Homo sapiens: one gene and its partners. The protein of the gene in region 4 interacts with the protein of the main gene of each other region in a biochemical or structural test. Each region holds a gene or a part of one and is shown on either strand. Other genes may lie near its edges.

Region 1 (7,530 bases), on a different chromosome or scaffold from region 4:
GCTACCACAGTCAGGATACAGAACCTGAATCACCACCCTCACCCCACCAGAGCTTCTTCCCTCTTTGCAGTCCTTCCCCTCCCCACAGGACAACCACTGATTTGCTTTCTTTTTTTCCCATTTTTGTGGAGAATGGAGTTTCACTGTGTTGCCCAGGCTGGTCTTGAACTCCTGAGTTCTAGCAATCTTCCCACGTGGCCTCTCAAAGTGCTGGGATTACAGGTGTGAGCCTCTATGCCTGCCCTGATTTGCTTTCTGTAACTATAAGTTACTTTCATTTTCTAGAATTTCGTATGGCATACATTATCTCCTCCTTCATGTCTGACTCTTTCATTTAGCGTCATGACTTTGGGATTCATCCCCAAGTAGCTTCTTTGTACTGCAGGGTGGTATTCCATTGCATGGATATAGCACATTTTGTTTATTTGTTCACTTGTTGATGGATATTTGGATAGTCTCTACTTTGGGGTTTTGTGAATAAAGGTACTATGAACATTCACGTACCAGTCTTTGTGTGGATATACATTGAGAATTGATATTTTAATAATGTAGTGCAGGTGACAGACCCTGACTTTAAAAGTTAAATACCAAAATATCAGCCTAACTAAGTAGCTCATCTAGGACAACAGCTCTTTGTAGTTGTTTCCATTTATTTTTAATTTTTCTTCTTATTTTTTTGAGGCAAGGTCTGGTCCTGTCACCCAGGCTGGAGTGCAGTGGCGCAAGCACTGCTCAGTGCAGCCTTGACCTCCTGGGCTCCAACGATTCTCCTGCCTCAGCCCCCTAGTAGCTGGGACCACAGGCACATGCCACCATGCCCGGCTAATTTTTGTTATAGAAACAGCGTTTTGCCATGTTGCTCAGGCTGGTCTTGAACTCCAGGGCTCAAGCGATCCACCCACCTCAGCCTCCCAGAGTGCTGGGATTACAGGCGTGAGCCACCACACCTGGCTGTCTGTTTCACTTTAAATGTCTCCCCTCACGTACATGAAGCTTACTGGAAAGCACTTTAAACTTTAGGCAGCAAACTAGATTTATTGCCAGTATACACATTACATAAGGTAAAAATTAGCCATATTATTTTAAAATTTAAAATGCATATTTTAATCTAAATGGATCCTAGGCCAGATGCAGTGGCTCATGACTGTATCCCAACACTTTGGGAGGCCAAGGCAGGAGGATTGCTTGAGCCCAGGAGTTCAAGACTGCAGAAAGCTATGATTGCACCACTGCACTCCAGCCTGGGTAACAGGGTGAGATTGTCTTTTAAAAAATCAAAAACATAAAAAACATAAAATGAATACTAAAAAAGATCCAATAATAATTAGCTTTATTTTAAAAGGATAATAATTTTTATGGTAATTACCATAGTACCAACCACCATTACTATTACTATATTAGCATATAATAACCCTTTGTATATATAAGCTCAACACATAATAGGTGCTTAATAAGTACAGAAGAAAAGAAATTCTCTCTTTGAGGCCCAGTGTTAAACAGATTAAGCATCATCTCTTACCAATAAATCCCTCTTATATTAACTTACCCTCCTGGGCTGTGTAGATGAGAAAGGCAGAGGAATCTACATCTTTTTACATGCACCTTGGTTGGCGGGGTGTGTGTTTGTGTGTGTGTGTGTGTGTGTGTGTGTGTGTGTGTGTGTGTGTGTGGAGAGAGAGAGAGCCTTATCATAAGGAAGAAAAAGTGTCCTGGAAGTATAGATAAGAAGGATGTGGCATAGATAAAGGACTTTGGGTGGATTTTTGGGTCCTACTCTACATGAAAATACAATAAGCCTACACTGTTTCTGTCACATGTTACCAGTCAGAGTGAAATGAATTGCGTGATCCTGACCTGCTAGTTAACTTTGTTGATCCATTACTTCCCTTCTCTGGTTAGGGGCCTGTTTCCAGCTCCCTGTTCTCGTCATTTCTGTCCTGAGTAGGAAGGACTTTACCGAGGGAGTGTTTCAGGCTTGCAGGCTGACAGCTGCTCTGGACAGCTGTGCTCCCTGAGGCAGAACCCTAGCTGCATCCCCAGCCGTGCAAACCAGAAACAAGCGGGTTAAAAATAATCCTGACCAAGTCATTTTGCCATCACTAATGAGCTCTACAGATACTGTCCTCCTTAATGATAATATATTTCCCTTCTGTCCTGTTGAATTTCATCTTTTCTCCTTTTCTGTCTTTCTCTGAATTTCAACTGCTGATTTTACCTTTGCTTTCCATTTTACTTTGAACAAGTATTTCCAATGGACCCTTCACAAGGACCTATAGCTCAGACTTGTTTTCAAAATCTCAGTGTAAACTGAGGAGACATTTGACATTGTCTGACCTCAAGAAAATTTTCTGAAGAACATTAAATCCTCCATTAAAAATCTTTATTCTGTATATTGGATGTGATGGCTCATGTCTATAATTCCAGCACTTTAGGAGGCCCAGGCAGGAGGATCGCTTGGGCCAGGACTTAGAGACCAGCCTCGGCTGGGCTAAGACCCTGTCTCTACAAAAAAATATATTTTTAAAAAATCTTTATTCTGTAATGTAAGTTCTTTATAAAGGAGTTAAATTGAGGTAAAGTATAAGGATTAGGTGTTATTCTCATACATCCATAGTAATCATAAATGTAGGAATAGAATAAGTTCTATGACAATAACCTATCAAAAACTGCACATAAAGACATTATGAGGACCTTAACCAAATTCACACCTAAGAGGTAAGTTAAGCTACGTCTGAACAAATGGAAAGATTAGTTAATAGTAAAAGTGCCATTAACTGCCTAACAATTGGGCCTTTAACATTAAATAACTTGCTTGAATGAATTTGTCTCCTTATAATGGACACAATCATAGTGACTTTCAAGCAATTAATTTAGAATGCTTGGCATTTCTAAAATTACAAATTTTCTTACTATAGCTAAATTATTTCAGTAACGCCTCCCTAGGAAAGTGTGTCTTCAAGTTGTTTTACTGTTGAATATTTACAAAATTATTACGAAAATTAGCACTACCGTTTTTAGTACAGTACTGCTATTACCTTTTCATGATTTGAGTCTCTAAAGATTTGCTATGTTAATATTATTACCATAAATTAGTTTCAACCATGGTACAAATCTCAGGACGAATCAGTACATTGTACGCACTACTTCTTTTGCCACATGAAAAAGAGGGAAATCAAGAGAAGTCTGAAACAGAAAGAATTGGGCTGACAGCGTATAAGATCTGAATAGAAGAAAAGGAGACAGATCAAAAAATATATATGCATATTGATCAAGCTGATCTTATCAGTCAGACAGTTACATGAGAGAAAGGGATAGCTACCAGTCTCATTACTCAGATTTGCTCTGAGAGGAAGGCCAGTGCAATCACCCACGAGAAGACTGCCTCTTTACCTGTCCATAGTGGTGTCCAGAGTGTCTTCTTGCCTCCCTGCAAGTCTCAGGCCAGAAAAATCTCACTTCAATTAATGATGGTTCTCTGTCTTAGTCTGACAGTGCATTGGCCCTTCACATTCAAATTTGAGCTTGCCCTTTTGGGCTCCTCCCCTGACAGCATCACCCCCACCAGGTACCCCAACGGCCTTGCTCCTGATTTGGATCCAGTGAAGATGGGTGGGTGGGGCTGTCATAGGCAGAGTCACACAGGTTAAACCATTGAGGGCAGCTCTGCTTTAATGTTTAGGTTCCTTTGGGGCTGCTGCTCTAAAAGCCCAGTCCATGCTCCATAGCTAGCAAAGATCAGGAGGCAGTAACAGTAGACACTTCAATTATAATCATGATAACACAAAATAAAAGCACAATGAGAATAGTAATATTTATGTAAATACCTTAAAGAGCATTTAAATAGCTTCTTGGGTTATTGTGTTGAAGAGCCTCAGATAGCCTCTAATTCCCCCATATTCCCACAGTCTCTCTGAACCTCAGTACAGACAGGCACTAGCAGCTCCTGCTTTGCAGTTAAGCAAATGAACTCAGTTATATAGAATTTAGAACACAAAAATTTTGCCTCCCAAACCATGGATTTTTTTCTTTCTGATTGCATTACAAGAATTGCTTGAAGACTAGATATTTACACCAAAGAGTGATTTTTGCATGAGCCATCTTTTTTAGAAAAAAAAAAAATCCTTAATTTGGAGTCAGAAGCAGCAGCAGTCCCCCAAAATACAAAAATGCTTGTTTCACCAGACAGATTCAGTGTCTAACTGGCTGCACTGAATTTGGAAAACAGGCTAAGATCTTCAAATAAAAGACTTTAATTTTGTGCTCTCATAGAACTTGGTCTATTAAAGATTTTATTTCTCTCTCCTACTGTAGCCCATATGCATTCTATTTATTCACTGAGTAGATACTTCATGCCTACTGTTAATGGAAACTATGCCAGGTGCTAGGGATGCAATGCTAAGCAATGCAGCTAGGGTCTCTGCTCTCTTCCTGCCTCAAGCCTTTGATACCATCTATACCTTGATGATTTTCAAATCAATAGCCCTAGCTTGGACCATGTATTCGTCTGTTCTCACACTGCTAATAAAGACATGCCTGAGACTGGGTAATTTATAAAGGAAAGAGGTTTAGTTGACTCACAGTTCCACATGGCTGGGGAGGCCTCACAATCATGGCAGAAGAGCAAGGGACATCTTACATGGTGGTAGGCAAGAGAGAGCTCACGCAGGGGGAAATCCCTTTATAAAACCATCAGATCTTGTGAGACTTATTCACTATCATGAGAACAGCATGGGAAAGACCCACCCCCATTGTTCAACTACCTCCCACTGGGTCCCTCCCATGACATGTGGGAATTGTGGGAACTACAATTCAAGATGAGATTTGGGTGGGGACACAGGCAAATCTATCAGACCACTTCTTGAAACTCAAGACAAGTGTATCCAGCTTCCCTCTCAGAATCTCCATTTGGATGTCTGAGCACCTCCAGCCTGTCTAAAACAGAACCCCTGTTCTCTGCCTTACCTACTCTTCTTGCCGTCTTTCCCATCTCAATAAACAGCAGTATTCTTCCAATTGCTTGGCAAAACCTGGGCAGAGTGTCTCTCAGCTCCTCTCTTTCTTTTAAATTCCATGCACACTCCATTAGCAAATCCTGTTATCTCTGCTTCCAGAATATAGCCACAAACTGACCACTTCTCACTACCTCCAGGTCCAAGCAACCTGGATTATTGCATTTTGCTTCCCAACTGGCCTTCCTGCCTCCCCCTTCTTCGATTACAGTCTGTTCTCCACATGGCAACTAGAGTATTCCTTCTGGAATATTTAAGGTCATGTCACTCCCCTGTCATAACCCTCCATGGCTTCCCATTCTCTCAGTATAGGCCAGCAGCCTGAGATGGCCCACAAGCCCCTCTACCGTCTGCTCTGCTTCACCCCTCTGGCTGCATCTCCTTCCACTCTCTCCCTTGCTCACGCAAAGAGCGCACACTCCTTCCTCTGCCCTTGAGGTCCCTCTGCTGAAATGTTATTTTTTGTGTATGGTTGTGGCTTACACCATCATATATTTTATGTCCTTATTCAAATACTGTCCGGTATTTGAGATTTGTCCTAGTCACCATATCTAAAATGTCAACAAAATCTCACCATTCTGACACTCCCTTGCCTCCATCCCCTAAATTATTTTTCTCTTTAGCACTTATCACTTAAAATACACTCCTAAGTAAACTAAAGACAAGTAAAATAATCTGTTTAAATTATTTTTTAATTAGCCATGAGATTCAAAATAATAATTATAATTATTTCTAATAATTATGTAATAATAATAATTATTATTTTGAGGAGGGTCTCTCTCTGTCACCCAGGCTGCACTACAGTGACATGAACATGGCTCACTGCAGGCCTTGACCTCCTGGGCTCAAGTGACACTCCTGCCTCAGCCTCCCGAGGAGCTGAGACTACAGGAATGTGCCACCACACCCAGCTCATTTTTGTATTTTTCTTTAGAGACGAGGCCTTTCCATGTTGACCAGGCTGGTGTCGAACTCCTGGGGTCAAGTGATCTGCCCATATCAGCCTTCCAAAGTGCTGGGATTACAGGCGTGAGCCACTGCACCTGGCCTTGTCTAAATTATTATTGCTGAAAAAATTCCTCAGGGCACCAGCAAGATAGTAGACGGTAGTTGCCTTTGGCACTCTCAGTTTTATAGGACAGTTGGTCAAGGAGCAGAATGGAGACTCCTAATTCATCTGCAGCGTCAACTGGAAGGTGCAGGCATTTGAAATCTAATCCCTTTAAGTTGTATCCTCAGATGCGAGTTGGGCTTTTATCATATTTTCACCCATTTGTCAAGAGAATAACACACAGGTACACACAATTGGGTTGTTTTATTGTTTTAAATAAAAACGGCACATATTTAAGGTGCATAACATGGTGTTTTGTTATCTGTAATGAAATGATTACTACAGTCAAGCTAATTAACTTATCCATCTCCTCACATAGTAACCTTGTATGGATATGTGTGTGTGGTGACCGCATCTGAAATCTACTGTCTTAGAAAATTTCCAGTATACAATTTTTTTTTTTTTTCGAGACAAGAGTCTCACTCTGTTGCCTAGGCTGGTGTGCAGTGGCATGATCTTGGCTCACTGCAGCGTTGACCTCCCGGGCTCAAACAATCCTCCCACCTCAGCCTCCCGAGTAGCTGGGACCACAGCTGCACACTACCACACTGGGCTAATTTTTTTGTTTGTTTTTTTGTACAGGCAGGATCTCACTATGTTGCTCAGTTAGGTCTTGAACTCCTGGGCTCAAACAATGCTCCCATCTCAGCCAAAGTGCTGTGATTACAGGTGTGAGCCACTGTGCCTGGCCCAATACAATCTTTTTTAACTGTAGTCATCATGCTGTACAATAGAGCTCTAGACTTATTAATCCTGTATAACTGCAACTTTGTACCATTTGAGCAACATCTTCCCATTTTCCCTACCTCCCCATGCCTGCTAACCACCATTTTACTTTCTTTCTTTCTTATTTTATTTTTTTTTTTTTTTTGAGACGGAGTCTCACTCTGTTGCCCAGGCTGGAGTGCAATGGTGTGATCTCGGCTCACTGCAACCTCCGCCTCCTGGGTTCAAAGGATTCTCCTGCCTCAGCCTCCCAATTAGCTGGAATTCCAAGCATGCACCACCACGCCCAGCTGATTTTTGTATTTTTAGTAGAGACGGGGGTTTCACCATGTTGGCCAGGCTGGTCTCGAACTCCTGGCCTCAAGTGATCCACCCACCTCGGCCTCCCAAAGTGCTGAGATTACAGGCGTGAGCCACTGTGGCTGGCTCACCATTTTACTTTCTGCTTCTATGTGTTCAACTTTTTAAGATTCCACATATAAGTGAGATTATGCAGTATTTTTCTTTCTGTGTCTGGCTTATTTCACCAAGCATAATGTCCTCCAGATTTATCAATGTTGTTGCAAATGGCAAGATCTCCTTTCTTAAGGCAGAATGATATTCTTATTCTGATATATATATACGTGCCACATTTTCTTGATCCATTCATCTGTCGACAGACACGTAGGTTGTCTCCATATCTTG
Region 2 (7,709 bases), on a different chromosome or scaffold from region 4:
TGTCACCCAGGCTAGAGTGCAGTGGCTCGATCTTGGTTCACTGCAAGCTCTGCCTCCCGGGTTCACGCCATTCTCCTGCCTCAGCTTCCCGAGTAGCTGGGACTACAGGCGCCCACCACCACGCCCAGCTAATTTTTTTGTATTTTTTTAGTAGAGACGGGGTTTCACCGTGTTAGCCAGAATGGTCTCGATCTCCTGACCTCGTGATCCGCCCGCCTTGGCCTCCCAAAGTGCTGGGATTACAGGCGTGAGCCACCACGCCCGGCTGGTGAGTCTTATTGACTCCTCCTAGTCAAGATCAGCCCTACCCATGTAGGAGCAAAAATAGCAATTACTGTTGTCACTAGCTCACTTGTAGAAATAGACACATATAAGATGGCATGTTGGGTCTGGAGACTTCACATACATATGACCTCCTTCATTTCTAAAGTAGATACCAACTTGCTAGGATGCACTTTTACCTATGCCATTTTAATTGATCCTCTTATAAATCTGAAGAGAGGAGGTTAATGTCACTCATCTCATAGCTGAGGAAACTGCAGCTCGCAAAAGTTAGATATCACTTAAGGACTCTTGGAAAGAAAATACAAATCCAGGATGCTAAGCCAGATCCTTTGTCTCCATATCCAATGAGATGGTGCCTCACTGGGCCAGGAACAGTGACTCACACCTCTAATGCCAGCACTTTGGGAGGCTGAGGCCAGTGGATCACTTGAGGTCAAGAGTTCAAGACCAGCCAGGCCAACATGGTGAAACCCCATCTCTACTAAAAATACAAAAAAAAAAATTAGCTGGACATAGTGGCACGCGCCTGTAATCCCAGTTACTCGGGAGACTGAGGCAAGAGAATCCCTTGAGCCCAGGAGGTGGTGGTTGCAGTGAGCTGAGATCGTGCCACTGCACTCCAGCCTGGGTGACAGAGTGAGATCTCTCTCAAAAAAAAAAAAAAAAAAAAAAAAAAAGATGCTGCCTCTGAGCAGGGGTTTTTAACTTGGGATTAAGTGGTCTCAGGGGGCTGCAGACACTTCCAGCTTGAAGCTGGAATGGTACTCCTGAGTATGTTAACTTAAGTGTAGCTAAAACTGCCTCCTTACCTATTTTGAGTTCGGATCTAAGGGCTTCTCTGTACATAGTGAACTGCAATCTACTCTTGTACCAATCACCGAGTTTTGGCTAATCAAAGGCGGCCAACTGTTCAAACCAAGTTTAAGGCAAACACCAAGCTGTAACCAACCTGGCTGTTTCTGTACCTCACTTTCATTTTCCTTTTTCTTTTCTTTTTTTTTAAGATGAAGTCTCGCTCTGTCGCCCAGGCTGGAGTGCAGTGGCGGGATCCTGGCTCACTGCAAGCTCCGCCTCCCAGGTTCACACCATTCTCCTGCCTCAGCCTCCCAAGTAGCTGGGACTACAGGTGCCTGCCACCACGCCCGGCTAAGTTTTTGCATTTTTAGTAGAGACAGGGTTTCACCGTGTTAGCCAGGATGGTCTCGATCTCCTGACCTCATGATCTGCCCGCCTCGGCCTCCCAAAGTGCTGGGATTACAGGCGTGAGGCACCGCACCAGCACCAGGCCCTCACTTTCATTTTCTGCATGTCACTTTCCTTTTTCTGTGCATAAATCCTAAATCCTCTCCAACCACGTGGCACACCGTGGAGTCTCTCTGAACCTATTCTGGTTGCAGCCTTCCCGATTTATGAATCATTCTTTGCTGAATAAAACTCTGTTAATTTGTTTAAAGTTTTTTTTTTTTTTAACAGGTGAGTATGGAAGTTTTTATTGGGAGAGGGACCAGAGCAGTCATCAGATTCTTAGAGGGAGGTCCTGATCCAAAAAAGATGAAGAACCCTCAGTTCTAAGACAGTAATATGCTGACACCTTAGTGAATAAAGAACATGTCAACAAGCAAATCCTTATTAAAATATCTAAGATGCCAGGACTCCACCTGGGAAAAAAAAGAGGTCAGCCTGGAGGTAACTTCAGGTAGTGGGGTGACTCTAACAGTCTCCAGGCAGATTTTACTAGGTCAAGTAGAGCGGACTCCACAGCTGCCTAGTGACAAGAGGTCCTTTCAGCTCTGGTAGAGTGTCTTCTGTAATGACCAGTGCCAGTAAGGGGTGATGCCTGGGCCAGACATTGGCATCCACCTGTTACCTGGACCACTTGATCAGACGACACACCAGTTAAGAAGCCACTTAAGTCTCCCACTCCACAGAGAGAAAAAAGAACAGATGTCCTCTTGGGTGTATCTGGATTACTGCTTTCATTTGTCTATGTGGCCAGTAGCGAGTTGGTAAAAGGTGTATAAATGCTGAGAGGCATCAACGAAAGCATGTTTTGGAAAAGTCTCATTTACATATGAATCAATATTTATTAAGTCCCTACTATGTACTTGGCACTGTTCCAGACACTGGGATCAAAGAATGGACAGTGTCCCTGCTGTTGAGGAACTCAGTGTGTTATAGGTGGTAGCTGACGTGTAAATAGACAATTATAACACAGAGGGATCAGTGCTCCACAGAGTCAACCTCAGAGTGCTGGGCAAGGGAGAAAGGAAGGACCGTGTCTGCTTGGAGTATCTAGGAAGGCTTCACAAAGGAGGTAACTTCTAGCTATATCTCAGGGGAGGAAAAGACTGCTCTCCCACAAAGCTCAAGTAATAATATTATCAAACATGAAATACATAAATTAGTTAGCACCTGAAGGACTCTAATCAGGAATTCATACTCTAGGGTACAGAGTTAGCATTTCAATGTAGTTAATCACAAGTCCAAACTATAGATGGCAGCCACTGTATAGCTTTAGCTTTCTAAATCTACACTTAAGCATTTGCTAATTAGTAAATGATTTGTTAGAAATAATTTTGCCCTTGAGTGATACTCAAGGTATATGAATTGGCTAGAAAAATATAGGCATCTCTTCCTTTGAAAGAATGGGTTACAGAATCTGGAAAGCCTACTAGCCTAATGTTGTCTTCAGAGAGACAATCTCAGGGCAGGAATCAGGAAGGTTCTCTGACCCACTACTGGGAGCAGAAGGTTTTGTCGCCTGGTTCAAATTGATTCAATGATGTGAGAAATAAAAACAAAATTCTAAGCTCCCAACTGACTCAACAAACTATCTTTTGGCCAAGGGGAGCCCAGAGATATCTAAAAAAAATTTTAAGTTTTGGCCATGATGGGAAAGGAGTTCAAACAGGACTCGTTCTATTCCCTCCCTAACTGCCATTAGTTTTTTTTCCCCTAAGGGCTAAATAGAAACTAGCCCTTTCAAAAAAATTATTTCAGGCCATGCATGGTGGCTCATGCCTGTAATCCCAGCACTTTGGAGCTGCCTGTAATCCCAGCACTTTGGGAGGCCAAAGCAGTTGGATTACCTGAGGTCAGGAGTTCAAGACTAGCCTGACAACATGGCAAAACCCAGTCTCTACTAAAAATATAAAAAAATTAGCCAGGCGTGGTGGCAGGCGCCTGTAATCCCAGCTACTCGGGAGGCTGAGGCAAGAGAATCACTTGAACCCAGGAGGTGGAGGTTGCGATGAGCTGAGATCACACCACTACACTCCAGCCTGGGCAACAGAGCAAGACTCCATCTCAAAAAGAAAAAAAAAAAAAAGACTCACTTCACCACTGGTATCAACTCATCACCTAATTCTGCCCTTCCTTTTTAGTGGTTTCAGCACAACTGACTAGCATTCCTTCCTGATAACCACTGACCACAGAGTGGTCTAAGACAGGGTCTTGCCCTGTCATCCTGGCTGGAGAACAGTGGTGCGATCATGGCTCACAGCTGCCTCGAACTCCCAGTCTTAAGTGATGCTCCTGCTTCAGCCTACCAAATAGCTAGGTTATGTAGATATGCAGTCTCATTTTGTTGCCCTGTAATACATGTTAGTGTTAAGTTTCTGCCTAAGGTGAACATGGGAGACATGCTGCACACGTTAGCTTACTCCACATGTGTGCATATTCATAGATCCTCCCTTTGTGAATATTCATAGATCCTCCCATAATCTGTTGAATATGTATGCTTAGCTACGCCTCTCAGCATAAATTCATGTTCCCTTTGCCCCTTCTTGGAAGTGCTTGTTTTTCAGTTATGGCCAGAGGCTCTGCTTCCTGCCTACAGGTAGTGGGACCCTCTTTAGAAATAGTCCTCCTTTCTAAATTTATAGATTTGTGGCTGGGTGTGCTGGCACACACCTGTAATCCCGGTGCTTTGGGAGGCCGAGGTGAGAGAATCGCTTGAGGCCAGGAGTTTGAGACCAGCCTGGGAAACATAGCGAGACCCATAAATAAAATAAAATAATTAGCCGAGTATGGTGGCATGTGCCTGTAGTCCCAGCTACTAGGGAGGCTGAGGTGGAACGATCACTTGAGCCCAGAAGCTTGAGGCTGCAGTGAGCTATGATTGTGCCACTGCACTCCAGCCTGGGTGACAGAGCGAGGCCCTGTCTCTAAAAATAATAATACTAAATACCATATTTTTATATAAATATATTTAATTAAATATAAATATATTTGTGACTTTTTCAGTTCAATAGAAGTAAACCAAAAGATGACTTTTGCCAGGTGCCGTGGCTCATGCCTGTTAACCCAGCACTTTAGGAGGCTGAGGCGGGTGGATCACTTGAGATCAGGAGTTTGAGACCAGCCTGGCCAACATGGTGAAACCCCATTTCTACTAAAAATACAAAACTTAGCCCTGTATTGTGGTACATGTCTGTAATCCCAGCTACTCAGGAGGTTGAGGCGGGAGAATCGCTTGAACCTGGGAGGCAGAGGTTGCAGTGAGCTGAGATCACACAACTGCACTCCAGCCTGGGTGACAGAGCTAGGCTTCAACTCAAAAAAAAAAAAAAAGAAGAAGAAGAAGTAAACCAAACGCAGCTGCTAGAATATTGGCACATTTGCTTCTAACAAAACATTCATGCAAAGTACTCTGGTCAAACTGGGGCTTCACTAATCCTATAAAAACAGGTTTCATGACTGTTTTTGTAGCTTGCTAATCAATGTCTGCATGTGTGGGCAGAGTTTAGCCTGCAACTTGGTTTCCCTGCAGTTACAGGCTCTAGTAGAGGCTAGGGGAGAGAAGGCCCTTAACTCCCCCACCTCTGATCAGGCTGTGGATGCTCAAGTTGGTAGGTCAGTTTGTAAGAGTTCCCAAGCAGCCCGGCCCTCTAGGGCTGCCTGTGCAAGCACTTTAAAGCCCTGCCCAGGCACTACTGCATTTTTTGCTGCTAACAGCAATTACTGAATCTACTTGAAAGGCATTCAATCCTTCCCTGCTCCATTGCTCCTTTTTTGTTTTTTCAATTCCCTCACTGTCCTTATAGTCAGGCTTGATACCTTCTCTAAGACTTGGTTGCCTCCTCCATTATGTGGAGTGCCTTCTCCATTCAGTGCTCCCGCTGCAATTTCCAATACTATTTCTATCGCTTTAGTCTGATGGCTGATTGTCCTCAACAATTCCATGATTGAATCCAAAATGCACGCTTCGTGACATTTTCTGGTATTAGTCAATTGCCATCAAGAGGATTAACATCTTTGAGGAGCCAGGCGCGGTGGCTCACACCTGTAATCCTAGCACTTTGGGAGGCTGAGGTGGGAGGATTACTTGAGTTCAGGAGTTCAAAACCAGCCTGGCCAACGTGGTGAAACACTGTCTCTACTAAAAATACAAAAATTAGCTGGGTGTGGGGGCGTGTGCCTATAATTCCAGCTACTTGGGAGGTTGAGGCAGGAGAACTGCTTGAACCCGAGAGGCAGAGGTTGCAGTGAGATCATGCCACTGCACTCCAGGCTGAATAACAGAGGGAGACTCTGTCTCAAAAAACAAACAAACAGACAAACAAACCAACCAACCCAGAAAACCATCTTTGAGGGATTTTCTCCCACTGGCAAAAAAGAACTACTTTAAGGCCTAAGCAATAATTCTAAACCCAAAGGCAGACCCTTGCCCAAATCTGCCACCTGGTGGCCAGTCGATAAAGACCAGCACTTCCCTGGCTTCTAGGATCTGGGGCTAATGTTTCATCCAACTCAGAAGTTCTCACACCAGGCCGGACCTGGTGGCTCACGCCTGTTATCCCAAAACTTTGGAAGGCTGATGGGGGTGGACCATTTGAGGTCAGGAGATCGAGACCAGCCTAACCAACATGGTGAAACCCCGTCTTTACTAAAATGCAAAAATTAGCTGGGCATGGTGGCAGATGCCTATAATCCCAGCTACTCGGGAGGCTGAGGCAGGAGAACTGCTTGAACCCAGGAAGCGGAGCAGTGAGCCGAGATTGCGCCACTGCACTCCAGCCTGGGTGACAGAGTGAGACTCCTTCAAAAAAAAACAAGTTCTCATACTAGCTGCATATTGGAATCATCTGTGGAGCTTAAAAATCCCAGTGCCCTGCCCAGGTCATGCCACACCCCAGACCAAGTAATCAAAATCTCTAGGAATAAGACCTAGGGATACACATTAGAATCCCAGGTGAGCTTTTCAAAAATATGCTTCCCAGGAATGCACCCGACCTACCCCATCACTGTCTCACAGGAGCAGGGCTCAAGTCTTTGTAATCTAAATAACTTTTGGGCAGTTATCTTATCCCTACTGAAGAACTACGGGTCTAGTTTGTTGTTCCCTCCATCTGCCTGCTGGACAAATACACACTCAGGCCCCTCTCTGATTTGCCTTCATGGGTATCCACTGAAGCTGGAAAATGAGGCTCAGAGAGGCTGAGTGACTTGCCCAGAGTCACAACAAGCCTGGTAGAGCTGGACTGCAGCTTGAAGCCTAGTCTTGTCTTATCTATCTTATCTATCTATCCAGCTATCTATCTATCTATCTATCTATCTATCCATCCATCCATCCATCCATCCATCCATCCATCCATCTATGACAGAGTCTCGCTCTGTCACCCAGGCTGGAGTGCAGTGGCGTGATTTTGGCTCACTGCAACCTTCACCTCCCGGAACCCTAGTCTTTTAATCCTACCTACAACTACATGCTACTTGATGCTTAGCTCTGCTGGAGGGAAATTCTTCATTTTAGTGAACTAAAATTCTTAGAGGGGGAAACAGAAAAATAAAAGAAGTCAAGAGGTACCCCAAAGGAGACATCATAGTCCTCAAACGTGTATGGCTTGTCTGCAAGGTCTTCAAAAAACTCTGCTAAAGAGTCCAGCGTTTCCTCTGCTAGTCTTTCATAGGTGGTCTCATCTAGAGAGCTGCAGAGGAAGCACAAAACCCAAAACATGATTACCAAATGCTTCCATTTTATTAATATCAAATTTATACATTTGTTATTTAAATTCATTAAATTGATGAAAATAACATGTAAAAAGTAAAAGTTTTTCTTTCTTTTTTTTTTTTTTTTGAGACAGAGTCTCACTCTGTCACCCAGGCTGGAGTGCAGTGGCTGGTCTGAACTCGTGACATCAAGTGATCCACCACGTGCCTCAGCTTCTCGAAATGTTAGGATTACAGGCGTAAGGCACCGTGCCCGGCCCAAAGTAAAAATTTAAAGGCCGGGCGTGGTAGCTCATGCCTGTAATCCCAGCACTCTGGGAGGCCGAGGCAGGCAGATAACACGGTCAGGAGATCGAGACCATCCTGGCTAACATGGTGAAACCCCGTCTCTACTGAAAATACAAAAAATTAGCCGGGCGTGGTGACGGGTGCCTGTAGTCCCAGCTACTCAGGAGGCTGAGGCAGGAGAATGG
Region 3 (7,709 bases), on a different chromosome or scaffold from region 4:
TGGGCTCAAGGGATCCTCCTGCCTCAGCCCCTCCCAGCAGGTGGAGCTCCAGGCACGCACCATCACACTCGGCTCATTATTAATTTTTCTGAAGAAACAGGGTCTCACTTTGTTGCCCAGGCTGGTCTCAAACTCCTGGGCTCAAGCGATCCTCTCGCCTCAGCTTCCCAATGTACTGGGATTACAGGCCCGAGCCATCGCACCCTGGCAAGAAAAAAGTTGTAAGAAACTGTTAATAGTGGTTACCTTTGGGGATAGAGACTGATATAAATGGAAAAGGAACGGGAGTGGAGAGGTGGAAGAAGGAAAAAGGAAGCTTTCATTCTTCACTGAATAGCTTTCCTACATATAAAAAAGTTGTTAAACAACTTGCGGTGGCTCACGCCACAAACCCAGCACTTTGAGACGCCGAGGCAGATGGACGGCTTGAGCCCAGGAGCTCGACACCAGTTCAGGAAACATGGCAAAGCCCTGTCTCCACAAAAAAGTAGCCAGGCATGGTAGTGCCAGCCTGTAGTCCCAGCTACTCGGGAGGTTGGAAGGATCACCGGAGCCCGGCCGTCGAGGCTGCAGTGAGTCGTGATTGTGCCACTGCACTCCAACCTGCATGACAGAGTAAGACCTGTCTCAAAAAACAAAAAACCCCAAAAACCTGGATTAGAGCAAATATGTAACAATATGCAAAACAATTTTACTTTAAGTAAAGCAAAAATGTTATCAATAGCTTCTAATTATGGCAACGCCATCTCTTCTGTTCTTTGAAAACCACAGTCAAAGCAATCGGAATGTTAATAGTTAGCTTTCCGTATCAGCAGGTTCCAAACACTCAAATCCAACCAGCCTGGGGTGGAAAAGACAATATTTGTGGGATGCAGAACCTGGAAATACAAGGAGCTGACTCTTCCCATGAGCGGGTTCTGCAGCAGCGCATACCAAGGGATGACCATACCTTAGCGTTCCCTCCTAAAACTTACAATATCAATGCTTAGCTTTCTTGCCAGTTCCTCATCACTTTTCAGTTGTTCTTCCATCGCTCTTCGCCTTTTTTCTGCCTGTCTTTTTTCCTCTTCTTCCTCCTCTGCCAACAACCTCTGTATGTATTCTTCACTGGCTTTGTTTTCTTCTTCCTCGCTGGCCCGTCGCTCTGCCGCCACCTTAAAAGTGATTAATAAAGAGCAATCCTTCTCTGAACGTTTTGGTATACTTGCAATATTTCATAACAAGAATAGAAAAGTAGAAAAAGAACAAATTGGCAGAAATTTAAATGATCTCAAATGAAGTACAAATCTGGAGAAGTAGATTCCTGCAAGATAGCTGTCCCATCTCAGCCTCCCAAAGCACTGAAATTATAGGTGTGAGCCTCCACACCTAGCCTGAGATGTATTACAAGTGAAAATTATACACAAAATTTTGAAGACTAACAAAAAAAGAGAAAAATCTCTATTTATGTATAACTTCATATGTAATTAAAACATAATGCTTCACTATAAACACTGCTTTTTAGGTACTTTTCCTATTTAGGAACTTCACAGCTAGCCCTTTAACCTTTCCTCATCTAAACTCACACTCTACCACCCTTTTACTTTAAGCTCAAAACTTTGGGGAAATAAAAATATATCCTGGTATGGATTAAATTAGGAAAAAGAAGAATTAAAAAATTTTCTTCATATGTAAATGCTTAGGGAACACTATCACATAAGAGCATTAATTATGTAGAAGTAAATTACAGCAAAAAACAAAGCCCTTATAAAGTACATTAAAATTATCCATATTTTGGCCAGGCACAGTGGCTCACACCTATAATCCCAGCACTTTGGGAGGCCGAGGCGGGCGGATCACAAGGTCAGGAGATCGAGACCATCCTGGTGAACACTGTGAAACCCCATCTCTACTAAAAATACAAAAAAATTAGCCAGGCGTAGTGGCGGGCGCCTGTAGTCCCAGCTACTCGGGAGGCTGAGGCAGGAGAATGGCATGAACCCGGGAGGTGGAGGTTGCAGTGAGCCGAGATTGCGCCACTGCACTCCAGCCTGGGTGACAGAGTGAGACTCCATCTCAAAAAAAAAAAATTATCCATATTTCAAGATATACTAGTTATATAAGCACAAAAAACTAAATTAAAATCTGAAACTAAAAACACAGCAGAGAAATATTCCAAAAAAAAAAACTATTTAGCACCTACCTTGCTTATTTCCTCTTCATATTCTCTTCTCAGTTCCCCAGGTTTACTGAGCAGACGAACTGGCTGATAGTCATCAGCTATTTCATATCAAAAAAGAAAATAACATTATAGGCAACACAATTTTATGGTAACTTTGGTCTTCCATTAAAACGAAAAATTAAAATATACAACTATTAATAACTGCAGCAATATCTCCTTTTGGAATTCCATTTTTAACATTTATTTTATTTATTTATTTTAGATTTATTTTATTTATTTTTTTTGAGACAGAGCCTTGCTCTGCTGCCCAGGCTGGAGTGCAGTGGCACAGTCTCGGCTCACTGCAACCTCCACCTCCCAGGTTCAAGCGATTCTCCTGCCTCAGCCTTCTCCTGAGCAGCTGGGATTACAGGCATGCGCCACCACACCCAGCTAATTTTTTATATTTTTGGTAGAGTCAGGGTTTCACCACATTGGCCAGGCTGGTCTCGAGCTCCTGACCTCAAGTGATCCACCCGCCTTGGCCTCCCAAAGTGCTGCGATTACAGGTGTGAGCCACCACGCCCGGCCTGGAATTCCATTTTGTGAGGCCAGAGGTTTAGGGTTTTGGGTTTGAAATGGCATATGAATGCATATACTTAACCCTTCCTCTAAACTCCATTAAAATAACAGTAAAGGAATTTTTAAAAACTGTAATCCTACAACAGCAGAAATTAGCAGAGGAGGTTAACTGATTAAAAAAAAATGTTTTTTTTTTTTGAGACAGAGTCTTGCTCTGTCACCCAGGCTGGAGTGCAGTGGTGCAATCTCAGCTCACTGCAACCTCCGCCTCCCGGGTTCAAACAATTATTGTGCCTCAGTGTCCTGAGTAGCTGGGATCACAGGCATGCCCAACCATGCCCAGCTAATTTTTGTATTTTTAATACAGACCGGTTTTTGCCATGTTGGCCAGGCTGGTTTCGAACTCCTAATGTCGGGCAATCTGCTCACCTCAGCCTCCCAAAGTGCTGGGACTACAGGCGTGAGCCACCGTGCCCGGCTCCAGTTAAAAAATTTTTAACAAATTTCTAGAAAATGGGAAGGCAATGAAATAGAGATAATTGATACAGCAGAAATGAAGGAAAAGAAATCCTTGAAAGGGAAGACTACAGCTGAGGTAGAATTAGAAGGGAATCTGCCTCCTATTTGCCTAGAGAGAGGCTCATAGAGTCCAGAGTGAGTAACCGTGGGACTGAAAACAGAACTCGAGATTTATAAGCTGTTAAATCAGAATCCTCGACTTACCGGCATTTCTCCCTGGATATGGGTGCAGGTGCACACACGCATATTTCTTTAAAGAAACAGATCTAGAGAGAGCCAGAGCAGCTAATGTAATAGGTGGTGACCCAGAGCAAAGTCCTCTGCGATCGGGCAGTTAGGGATGGCAAAGCACAAAGGCCAGGTTTCCATCGGCTTGAACTCAACGTCTGCCCATCACCAATACCCTTCCACATACACAGAGCTTTTCTCCTGGGCCTCATTCTCAAACCTAAAAGCTAATCCAAGGATCGTCAGACATTTGAAATACATCTGCAGGACTAGGGAAACAGTAAGCTATACAAAGAGAAAAAATCATCACCCTGGAGTTGAAAGATAATTCTGGGTCAGAAAATAACCTAAATGTGGGTATGTATCCTCAACAAATCTGATGAGAATTTTATTCTATAAAACAAGACACTGTTTTATAAAGTGTAAAAAGGGAACATCCAAAAAAGAGAACGCATCTGTCTGTTTCAAGGGGCAGCTGCTACTCAACTCCAGCTGACTACGACTACCAGGAAACTCAGGCCTGTCCGTGCCATATTTTTTGCTTTCTCAAGAAAATCCAGAGGCGGCAGGGGTGGATGGTGAGAGATGACTTCATGGGTACAATGTACATTATTTGGGTAGCAGATACCCTAAAGAGCCCTGACTTCGCCACTGTGCAATCTATACATGTAACAAAATTACCCTTGCACCCCATAAATTTATCCAAGTAAAAAGAAAAAAAAAAAGAAAATCCAGCAATCAAGATGTTAATATGAAATCTTCCAACTTAAATAGTGGCATTGGATGGGTCACAAAAAACATGCACACAGGATTCCTATGGCCTGCAGGCCAGCAGTTTGAAAAATCTGCAACAGAGAGACTAAAAAACAGTGATGTAACTCCAAAACAATTAGGGATGCAGTATGCTGAATTCTCATTTATTTTAGTCACTAAGGAGGATCTATTCAAGACAATACAATGGTATACACAGGAGAGACATATATAAGGCTCCTTAAAAAGTAGAAGGATAATCAGCTGGCTTAAACTGAGACCTAGATCAGCAAGTCTTAAAGTAGAATCTACGAAACCCTGGAGGTATCTGAGACTTTTTTTCAGGGAAACTGCAGAGTCAAACTATTTTCATTTAAAAAATTAAAGTAAGCTGGGAGCGGTGGCTCACGCCTGTAATCCCAGCACTTTGGGAGGCTGAGGCAGGCGGATCATGAGGTCAGGAGTTCGAGACCAGCCTGGCCAATATGGTGAAACCCCGTCTATACTAAGAATACAAAAATTAGCCAGGCGTGGTGGCACGCACCTGTAGTCTCAGCTACTCGGGAGGCTGAGGCAGTAGAATAGCTTGAACCCGGGAGGCGGAGGCTGCAGTGAGCCGACATTGCACCACTACACTCCAGCCTGGACGACAGAGGGAGATTCCGTCTCAAAACAAACAAACAAAGAAACAAACAAAAAACCCAAATAAAACAACTGACAGTAGGCCGGGCACAGTGGCTCATGCCTGTAATCACAGCATTTTGGGAGGCCGAGGCAGGTGGATCACTTGAGGTCAAGAGTTTGAGACCAGCCTGACCAACACGGTGAAACCCGTCTCTACCAAAAAATACAAAAAGCCGGGAGTGGTGGCAGGCACCTGTAATTCCAACTACTCGAGAGGCTGACACAGAAGAATTGCTTGAACCCGGGAGGCGGAGCTTGCAGTGAGCCGAGATCACGCCACTGCACTCCAGCCTGGGCGACAGAGGGAGGCTCCGTCTCACAAACAAACAAAAACACATGTTCAACATTACTAGTCATTAGGGAAGTGCAAATCCTGAGTACGGAGATACCGCTTCAGAGGACAGCCAACACTTGGTTTTTTTTTTATAATAGTCATCCATTAAGATATATACACACACATAATGGAGTATGCGGCCAAAAAAGGAAATGGAATGGACACGTGCTAGAACACGATGGACCTTCAAGACACTACGCTGCGTGAAACAGCCAGTCACCAAAGGACAGACACTGTGTGGGGTTCCACTCGTACGAGACACCTAGAGCAATTAAACCCGTAGAGGCAGAAAGAATGGAGGTCGCCAGCAGCCAGGGGAGGGGTGAATGGGGAATTAATTATTGTTTAATGGGCAGTTTCAAGCGTGGAAGATGAGAAAGTTCAGAGATGAATGGTGGTGACGGCTGCACAAAAACATGAATGTACTTCATGTCACGCAACTGTCCATTTAAAAATGGTTAACATGGCGGATTTTATGTTATGTATCTTTTACAATAAAACTGGAAAAAAAGTAAATCACTTTACACATTAGATACAATAAAATAGTAGCTAAGAGGCTGGGCACAGTGGCTCATGCCTGTAATCCCAGCACTTTGGAAGGCTGAGGCAGGAGGACCACTTGAGCTCAGGCTATCAAGACCAGCCTGGGCAACATAGCAAGACCCCATCTTTGTTCAAAAAAATTTTTTTTAAGTAGCTAATTTAGGAAAACAATAATAAGACAGATGTATTATACTAGAAAGCAAAACATATCATTAAGCAGAATTAAACTAAGCATGTGTGGTACTGACACAGCTACTGATAAAGAGATAGTTAAAAAATAAAAAGCCCAGGCAAGGTGCCATGGCTCATGCCTGTAATCCCGGCACTTTGGGAGGTGGAGGCAGGCGGATCACTTGAGGTCAGGAGTTCAAAACCAGCCTGGCCAACAAGGCAAATAACCCTATGTCTACTAAAAATACAAAAATTAGCCACGTGTGGTGGTGCACGCCTGTAATCCCAGCTACTCAAGAGGCTGAGACAGGAGAATCGCTTGAACCCGAGAGGCAGAGGTTGCAGTGAGCCAAGATCGCACCATTGCACTCCAGCCTGGGTGACAGAGAGAGACTCCATCTCAAATAAATAAATAAATAAATAAATAAAATAAATAAATAGCCCCAAATTGCTCTGGAAAATAAGCATATGATTAGTGAAATAGTACGTATATCAATGTGGCTGTATTACTACCAAGTAGTGTGGCTATTAAGTGGCAATCAAGGGCAGGGGGAGTTAAGATGCCTACCTCATACAATACTCGAATTCAAGGTGGATTAAAAAATGGAAAAAAACAAAACTATAAACGACTAAGAAGAACATATGAGATAAATTCCAAAACAATTAAAACTTCCATGTGATGAAAGACATCACAAAGTTAAAAACAAACTAGAAGTTATTTGCAAATACATAAATCACCAGAGAATTAGTGTCCAGAATATAACTAGAACTTCCACAGATCAATTAAAAACCACAACAGGCAAAGGAAAGGCACGTGCGATTTACAGAAGATGCCCAACTACAGCAAGCAGAGAGCTGAACTTTTGTTAAACCGTGGAATGACAGATTTTTAAAGTTTACTTATTTCTACATAAACTGAATCTAAATTAAGATCAGTGAGTTATTCAACTGCAGACACAAGTTAAAATTGTCTTCATTTGCCTTTTTCTTTTGTTTTTGGAAACAAGATCTCACTCTTGCCCAGGCTGGAGTTCAGTGGCGGGATCATAGCTCACTGCAGCCTCCAACCCCTTGGCTGAAGCGATTCTCCTGCCCTAGCCTCCTGAAGCACTGGGATAACAGGTGTGAGCCACTGCATCCAGTCCATTTGCTATTTCTTTTTCTTCTTTGACGGAGTTTCGCTCTTGTTGCCCAGGCTGGAGTACAATGGCGCAATCTCAGGTAACTGCAGCCTCCACCTCCCGGGTTCAAGCAATTCTCCTGCCTCAGCCTCCTGAGTAGCTGGGATTACAGGCATGTCCCACCACGCCCAGCTAATTTTTTGTAATTTTAGTAGAGACGGGGGTTTTACCATGTTGGCCAGGCTGGTCTTGAACTCCTGACCTCAGGTGATCCACCTGCCTTCCAAAGTGCCAGGATTACAGGTGTGAGCCACCGTGCCCAGCCTTCCATTTGCTATTTCTTTCTTTTTTTAAATTTATTTTTTTTTTTTTTTGAGACAGAGTCTCACTTTGTCACTCAGGCTGCAGTGCAGTGGTGCAATCTCAGCTCACTGCAGTGTCCACCTCCCAGGCTCAAGCAATGCTACTGCCTGAGCCTCCCATGTAGCTGAGACTACAGGCGCCCACCACCACACCCGGCTAATTTTTGTATTTTTTGTAGACGGTTTTGCCCTATTGGCCAGGCTGGTCTCACACTCTCAGGCTCAAGCGATTTGCCTGCCTTGAACTCTCAAGTACTGAGATTACAGGTGTGAGC
Region 4 (7,709 bases):
GGGCGGACGCCAGCACAGCCCACACCCCTACAACAGCTGAGGCCCGGCTGGCTCTTCCAGCCTCTTCAACAGGGGGCTGCATTACCTGGTCTCTTCCGGAAGCTCCTCGATAAAACCAGACTCGCATCTTGGACAGATATAATCCTGCAGGAGAGAACAGGAGGCCGGGTCACGGTGACGCCGGCATCACCTGCAAACCCCCCCAAGTGTGAGGACAGAGGGGCTCCGGACCCAGCGGTCTCTGGCTGGCCAGGCACACGCAGGCCAGGGTGGCTCCCAACCCGTGGGTCCTGGAGGGCGGCCGAGGGGACCTGGCCTCTGCCAGCCACCCGCTGACCCTTTGGTGGCTCCCGGCGATCTGAGCCCCTCCGACCTGGCCCCACCGTGACGGGCGTCACCAGCGTCATCAGCGCCTTGGCTGAGCCCCTCCGACCTGCCCCACCGTGACGGGCGTCACCAGTGCCTGGGCACCTCCTCACACAGGTGGCACCACTCGGAGGGGTGCCCCAATACCCCACAGTGGCATTTCCAGGACGCTCTGGCAGCCCCGCACACAGCCCGTTCCCCTGGCTCGGGGGAGGCCACGTCCACGCTGGCCACACCCCTGCAAGACCCCATCCCCAGGTCCCCCTAGAGCCAAGGACAACACAAGGCCAACATGGTGATGTCCCAGAGGAGACGTGAGGACCCTGCCCAGGGACAGCCGTGGGTGAGTCCCAAAACCACGTTCACAGTTCCCCAGCACCAGCCTCAAGCCACAGCTGTGCCGAGCAGGACGGATGCCATCCCCTGTGGATCTCACACTGCAACGGGATCCCCAGGGCTGAAGGGCCTGCTGGAGACACTGGCTCACAGGGCGGACTCCTCATGGATGGCTGGGCCCCTGGTGATGGCGGAGCGTGCCGAGCATTCGTGGGGCCTGGGCTGAAACGTGCATGGTGCCTCCCGGCCTCACCAGGGGCTGGGCAGATGCCGACACACACTTCCCGCACAGCCTGCAGAACTGGAAACTGGAAGCTAAATCAACTGCTCTCTATGAACGACCCAGTCTCAAGTGCTCCATCGCAGCAACGTGAAAATGGCCTCACACGGCACGTGTCATCACGCCAGGGGCTCACATGGGGGTCCCAAGACCACCCCCAGGTAACACAGACAAAAACAGGAGACAAGGCTCCCACCGTGCATGGGGGAGTGCTGTGAGGGGAGCCAAGGTCGACCCCAGGCTCTGGGGATGCAGGTTGCACCGGGGCTGTTCAGTCTTCGCAGGGGCAGGGGCTGGGACCTCTCCAGCAAGCAAGATCCCGGCCTCACCCACTGACTCTGGGGAGAAGCGGGGGTCTGGCGTGCAGTGCCCAAGGGGAGGGCCGACAGCTGGGCCCCCGCCCACACCACGCCGTGCCTGCCTCACCTGCTCCTGCCACTGAAGCACAGGCTGGGTGGGGAGGGACTAAGGCCAGGGTGAGCAAACGATGCCAGATGCACATGAACCCACCGTGAGGGGAGAGTGAAGAGGCACCATCTACAATATAGAAAAAGTGCGGCCCGGCTCCTGGTGAGGCCGGGAGGCACCACATGCGTTTCAGCCCACGCCCCACGAATTCTCGGCACGCTCCGCCATCACCGGGGGCGCGGTGGCTCAGGCCTGTAATCCTGGCACTTCGGGAGGCCGAGGCGGGCGGATCATCTGAGATCAGGAGTTGGAGACCAGCCTGGCCAACATGGTGAAACTCTGTCTCTACTAAAAATACAAAAATTAGCCGGGTGTGGTGGCGGGCGCCTGTAATCCCAGCTACTTGGGAGGCTGAGGCAGGAGAATTGCTTGAGCCCGGGAGGCGGAGGTTGCAGTGAGCTGAGATTGTGCCATTGCACTGCAGCCTGGGCGAGGGAGCAAGACTCCGTCTCAAAAAAAAAAAAAAAAAAAAAAAAAAAAAAAAAAAAAGTGCTGGCCGGGCGCGGTGTCTCATACCTGTAATCCTGGCACTTTGGGAGGCCGAGGCAGGCGAATCACCTGAGGCCAGGAGTTCGAGACCAGCCTGGACAACATGGAGAAACCCCGTCTCTACTAAAAATACAAATGTTAGCCAGGCGTGGTGGCACGTACCTGTAATCCCAGCTACTCAGGAGGCTGAGACAGGAGAATCGCTTGAACCTAGGAGGCGGAGGCTGCAACGAGCCGAGATCATGACATTGTAACTCCAGCCTGGGCGACAGAGTGAGACTCCGTATCGGGAAAAAAAAAAGTGCTTACAACTCAAAAGAAAGAAAGAAAGAAAGAAAAAAAAGCCCAGGCCAGGTGCAGCAGCTCACACCTGTGATCCCAGTACTTTGGGAAGCCAAGGTGGGCAGACCATTTGAGGTCAGGAGCTTGAGACCAGCCTAGCCAACATGGCCAAACCCCATTTCTACAAAAAACAAATTAGCTGGGTATGCTGGGGTGGGTCTGTAGCTCCAGCTACTAAGGAGGGGGAGGAGACAGGCAGGAGCGGGAGGCAGGAGGCAGAATGGCTTGAGTCCAGGAGATCGAGACCGCAGTGAGCTGTGGTCCCACCACTGCGCTAGCCTGGGTGACAGAACCAGACCCTGCCAAAAAAAAAAAGAAAAAGAGAAACAGACAACGCAACTAAAAACGGGCAAAGTCGGGAGGCTGAGGCAGGAGAACGGCTTGAACCTGGGAGGCAGAGCTTGCAGTGAGCCGAGATCGCGCCACTGCACTCTAGCCCGGGCGACAGAGTGACACTCCATCTCAAAAAAAAAGAAAAGTGGGGGGGGAAAGGACGTGTACAGGACATGCCTCCAAAAACACGCTGGGTAAACGCAGCCGGCCAGCCCCAGCGAGATGCCACTTCCCAGGGCCAGCCAGGACGAGATGCAAGACCCCGTCAGGCCTGCTGGGAGCCCAGAAGTCCCCCAGATGGAACTACCCCATGACCCACGAGCTAGAACTTTCACTCCAGGCGCAGACCCCAGAGAAACGAAGACACCTGCCCACCAAATGTTCACATGGCCAGAACTGGCAGGTGAGAGTTCACGGCAGCACAGTTCATCATCGTCGTCGGCAGATGCAAACAGCTCCAGTGTCCACCCGCACCTCAGAGCACGACTCAACCATGGAAAGGGGCAAGGCCCAGACCAGGCCACGGCGGGGGGGAGGGGGGATTGCATCTTGAGGACATCACGTCCAGTGAGAGATGCCAGACACAGAAGACCACGCAGCGTGTGATCCCACGTCTATGAAATGTCCAGGACAGGCCGAGCCACAGAGACAGAGAGGGGATGTGTGAGCACCAGGGCCTGGGGGAGGGGACGGGGAGTGACGGCTGGCAGGGCTGAGGTGGGTTCTTTTTGCAGCTGTGAGAATGCTGTGGAATTAGACTGTGGTGGTGGTTGCACAACTTTATGAATATACTACAAACGTTTCACCAGGTGAATTATATGGTGTGTGAAAATACTGAGATAAAGCTATTAAAATAAATGGGCCAGGCGCCTGTGGTCCCAGCTGCTAGGGAGGCTGAGGTGCCAGGATCGCTTGAACCTGGGAGGTGGAGGCTGCAGTGAGCCAAGATTGCAGCAACAGAGTGAGGCAGCATCTCAAAAACAAAAACAAAAAAAAGAAAGAAACAAAGAAAAAAAGGGCTGGGCACAGTGGCTCACACCTGTAATCCTAGCACTTTGGGAGGCCAAAGTGGGCAGATCACTTGAGGTTAGGAGTTCGAGACCAGCCAACATAGGGAAATACCGTCTCTACTAAAAATACAAAAATTAGCTGGGCACGGTGGTGGGTGCCTGTAATCCCAGCTACTCAGGAGCTGAGGCACGAGAATCGCTTAAACCCGGCAGGCAGAGGTTGCAGTGAGCCGAGATCATACCACTGCACTCCAGCCTGGGCCACAGAGTGAGACCGTGTCAGAAAAAGAAAAAGAAAAAGGGAAAGGGGAAGGGGAAGCAGCCAACGACCACCACTGTGGCCCTGAGCTTAGTGTGGGAGCAGTGTGGCTCTGCCACAGTGGCCGTGACAACTCTCCCCAGGCGTCGGTTCTTGGGGTGTGTTTGGGGTGTCGGGATTGGGACGCCCCACGTAAACACGCTGAGACTTCACAGTCAAATCTGAACCCCTGGTTTCTGCCGGTGTCGGGTCTATCGGGGCTCCTCTGGGCTCAGGGGTTGCCGCCGTCCGCCCGCCAGCTGACCGGGAGCCCAGGGCCGCTCCATCGCCTGGGTGGGTCTCTGGGAATGGAGGGGTAGCTCAGGGCTCAGGCTCTCCCTGCATGGTGACTCCCCAGGCTAGCACCACCCAGTGGACCTGGAACAGCTGCACTGGCCCCCACTGAGGGCAGGACGTAAGTCAGCTGTGCAGCTGCCCCGACCACCATCTCTCCTGCTGGGTGCATCCACAAGGTCAGGCAGCCCCAGAAGGGCCTGAGGGAGAAGCTGTCTCCCTCTGAGGACCCTGGCTTGCCAGCCCCAGCCCCGAATCTCTCCTGGACAAGCACGAGGCCCTGCACACGCCCACGTGGCCTGGCACAGCGCTCGGCCGCTCTGGTCCCCATGTGCCGAGCTCAGCCCCTCTGTGCATCACTGGCTTTCTGTCGGGCTCCCGGGTTCCCGTCTCAGTCCAGGGCACAACGCATGCTCCCGCCACCCGCACTGCCGGCTCACGACAGCCCGACCTGGCCACATACACACTCATCTGCCCCAGCCCTGGCCTCCTCTTGGCCCCCGCTGTCCTGCCCGCAGCGGCCGTGGGGCCTGGTGCCACAGCACTGTCCAGAACCCTCTCTCTGCAGCACCCACTCCAGCGTCGGGGCCTGTGCACGTCGGCCCTGCTGCTGGAACGCCCACCCTAGGGGTTTCAAAGGTCACCTCTCTGCTCCAAGCCTCTGCCCTGTCACAGAGGACAGCCTGGACACTCACTCATATCTGAAATCCGGGTGCCATCGAGGACGCCAAGGGCTGCGACCCAACTCCTGCGTATTGTCAGGGCTCTGGGCTGTCTCTCAGGCCCCCGGCCAGCCCCTCCAGGGCCACCGAAGGCCGGAACCGAGGCTCTGGTCACGAAGGCAAGTGACAGGTGGATCCCGGATATCCAGGGTGGAGGTTGAGCCTCTGCTGGCCGACGGTGGGAGGGGCTGGACCTGGGGGTCTCCAGCCGCCCTCCTCCTCCAAGGGCACAGCCAAGAGACCGCTTGGTCTCGTATTAAATCGGGGCAGCTGCAGGTAGAAACGCCTGGGCAAGGGGGCCTGGTGAAGGAGCTGCCCCACCTTCTCCGGGGGCAGCACGCACTGGGGGCCCCCACAGAGGCCCCATTGGAGCCTCTGGCCCTAGCAGAAGACGGTGAATCCATTCACCTCTCCGTCAGAGAACAGATGCAGGAGGTACGATCACCCGGCATCATCACCATAGCAACAGCTGGCCAGGCAGCCAGGGTAGGGGGGACCCTGCCAGTGCCGGGCTCCACCCATGCACCCCTGCAGCGTGATGGCCTCATCCCCGGGTGGGACCTGGCAGGGCAGCAGAGGCCCCTTCATCCACGGGGCCTGCACGGGGCGCATGTCCTGAGGGCCCAGGGCCAGGCGCATGGAGGGGAGTGGGCTGGCGACCTACAGGCCCCAGATGACTGACAGTGACCAGGGCAGGCAGGCCCCTGGTGACAGTGACTCGGCCCCTGTGGGTGGCAGGGCCCTCGGGAAGCTGTGCACATCAGGAGACCCCAGGGAGAGTCATGGTGCAGTGCTCGGCCTCGGTAGGAGCCCCCGTGCTGGCTACTGTTTTCCTAAAGGGTGCCCAAAGCTTCCCGGCTGATCCACAGTGTGTGGGCCCCGCAGCCCCAGAGGCACGGGCACGTGCGGCGCCTGCACCCCTTTCTTCCCGCCCTCAGCAGCTGCCACCACATCCCACATTCACACCGTCTGTCCCTGGGCCCCACGCACCACACACTCCCAAGACAAGCTGGATGGACGAGGCGTGAGCGAAGCCACTGCCTCAGCCCAGGCTGGGGCCCCGCCTCACACCCCAGGGCGTGCCTCGGCCCAGGCCCCGAACTCTGCCTTCTTCTTCCCAGGTGGCTTCAGGCACCACCACTAGGGACTGGAACCCCACAGGTGCCCATCCGTGCCAGTGCCAGGGGTGCTACGGCTCGCCCGAGGCTCAGAGGAAGGTCCTCATGGTGGCAGAGTTCTAAGTGGGAGGAAATTCAGCACCGGCATCTGCCCGAGGCAGACCCCAGCGCCAGCCGGCCAGAGAGGGCAGCCGACATCCACAGGTTCCCGGGGTATTGCTGGTGCCCGATCACAACGCCAGGCTCCATGTTCACAGGGTGCTGCAGGGAGCCCGTTCCGGAGAACCCAGCTGTGCAGAGCCGCTCCAGGGTGCTGGCCGGACGCTTGAGAGGCAGGGGCAGGCTGTCACTGTCACGGTATCTGGCACAACCGCAGACACACAGAGCAAGCAGCGGCCAGAGACAGACCCAGGCCGTCTTCTGAAGACTCGGGCCAGGCCGCCGCAGGGACCAGGAGAAGACAGGGTGGGCCGGGGGGCAGCTGGGGAGACTTCCCGCCTGGCCCCATCAGTGACACTGGCCGTAGCAGCCCTCACTTCCTGGTGGCTCCCCGCCCACGCCGGCTCTTCCCCGCCACCGTGGGCGGCAGGGCCCAGCACCCCCACCGTCCTCTCACCGCCACTTGGGGACACTGCGGAGGTTGCAGGCGTTCGGGGGTGGGGGGTCGGCAGGCAGAGCTGGAACCACCCTAGGAACCACCCAGAGACGGGGAGGTCAGGGGCAAGGACGGCACGCAGGGCCACCTCCCTGCGCCCGCCTGGTTCCTGGGGGCTCAGTGCCCTCAGCAGCTCTCGCCCACACCCTACAGTCACAGCTCCAGTCAGTGCCTCCTCAGCAGGCTCGAGTCTGGGTCTGCGCAGCCGCCTGTGGCCTGAGCTCCAGCTGGCCTGTCTGGTTCCTGCCGCCACACGCCCCACTCTGGCTGACGCTCCCTTTGCTGCTCAGACACCCAGACACCCTCGTCATCGCCTTTTTTTTTTTTTTTTGGAAGGAGTCTTGCTCTGTCACCCAGGCTGGACTGCAGTGGCACAATCTCGGCTCACTGCAACCTCCGCCTTCCAGGTTCAAGCAATTCTCCCGCCTCAGCCTCCTAAGTCACTGGGACTACAGGTGCCTGCCACCACGCCTGGCCAATCTTTTGTATTTTTAGTAGGGATGGGGTTTTACCATGTTAGCCAGGCTGGTCTCGAACTCCTGACCTCAGGTGATCCGTCCACCTCAGCCTCCCAAAGCGATGGGACCACAGGCGTGAGCCACCGCGCTCGGCCTCATCACAGCCTTTCATGGGGGCAACTGCTGCCCCTGTGCCGTCGTCGCCTGAGCCCCCGACCGCAAGTGTGGCTCCCCGCTCAGGACACCCTCACGAGTCACCAGGAGAGCGGCCAGGTGCCGGCCACTCTGCACACACGTGCCCACCAGATGCCACGGGGAGCGAATCGCATCACTAAACCCACTTGGCAGGTGAGGAGACTGAGGCCAAGGCTGCCCAGCAGAGAATGACCCAGCTGCGCGGGGCCTCAGCCTGATCCCAGAGCCCAGGACAGCAAAGGAGGCCCGGAACGGCCCAGCTGCCTGGGAGAAGCCCTCGTGGGCAGGCACACAGCCCATGGCAGCCAGTCCCCCCTGCGTCAGAGGCAGGCAGGAGCTTCCCGA

What was found.
Region 1: of the proteins of RNF126 (region 4) and AICDA, one has a biochemical effect on the other in vitro, tested with the Homo sapiens proteins (one study listed by BioGRID).
Region 2: of the proteins of RNF126 (region 4) and FXN, one has a biochemical effect on the other in vitro, tested with the Homo sapiens proteins (one study listed by BioGRID).
Region 3: the proteins of RNF126 (region 4) and RNF168 form a complex in vitro, tested with the Homo sapiens proteins (one study listed by BioGRID).

What each region holds. Positions count from the first base shown.
Region 1 is NC_000012.12:8,609,370-8,616,899, forward strand, and holds the start of AICDA (single-stranded DNA cytosine deaminase), read right to left. Parts: upstream 3,491-7,530; 5' UTR 3,399-3,490; coding exon 3,391-3,398; intron 1-3,390. UniProt on the Homo sapiens protein: Single-stranded DNA-specific cytidine deaminase. Involved in somatic hypermutation (SHM), gene conversion, and class-switch recombination (CSR) in B-lymphocytes by deaminating C to U during transcription of Ig-variable (V) and Ig-switch (S) region DNA.
Region 2 is NC_000009.12:69,052,645-69,060,353, reverse strand, and holds part of FXN (frataxin, mitochondrial isoform 1 preproprotein), read right to left. Parts: intron 7,215-7,709; coding exon 7,094-7,214; intron 1-7,093.
Region 3 is NC_000003.12:196,486,425-196,494,133, forward strand, and holds part of RNF168 (E3 ubiquitin-protein ligase RNF168), read right to left. Parts: intron 2,260-7,709; coding exon 2,183-2,259; intron 1,155-2,182; coding exon 975-1,154; intron 1-974. UniProt on the Homo sapiens protein: E3 ubiquitin-protein ligase required for accumulation of repair proteins to sites of DNA damage. Acts with UBE2N/UBC13 to amplify the RNF8-dependent histone ubiquitination.
Region 4 is NC_000019.10:652,741-660,449, forward strand, and holds part of RNF126 (E3 ubiquitin-protein ligase RNF126), read right to left. Parts: intron 145-7,709; coding exon 86-144; intron 1-85. UniProt on the Homo sapiens protein: E3 ubiquitin-protein ligase that mediates ubiquitination oF target proteins. Depending on the associated E2 ligase, mediates 'Lys-27'-, 'Lys-29'-, 'Lys-48'- and/or 'Lys-63'-linked polyubiquitination of substrates.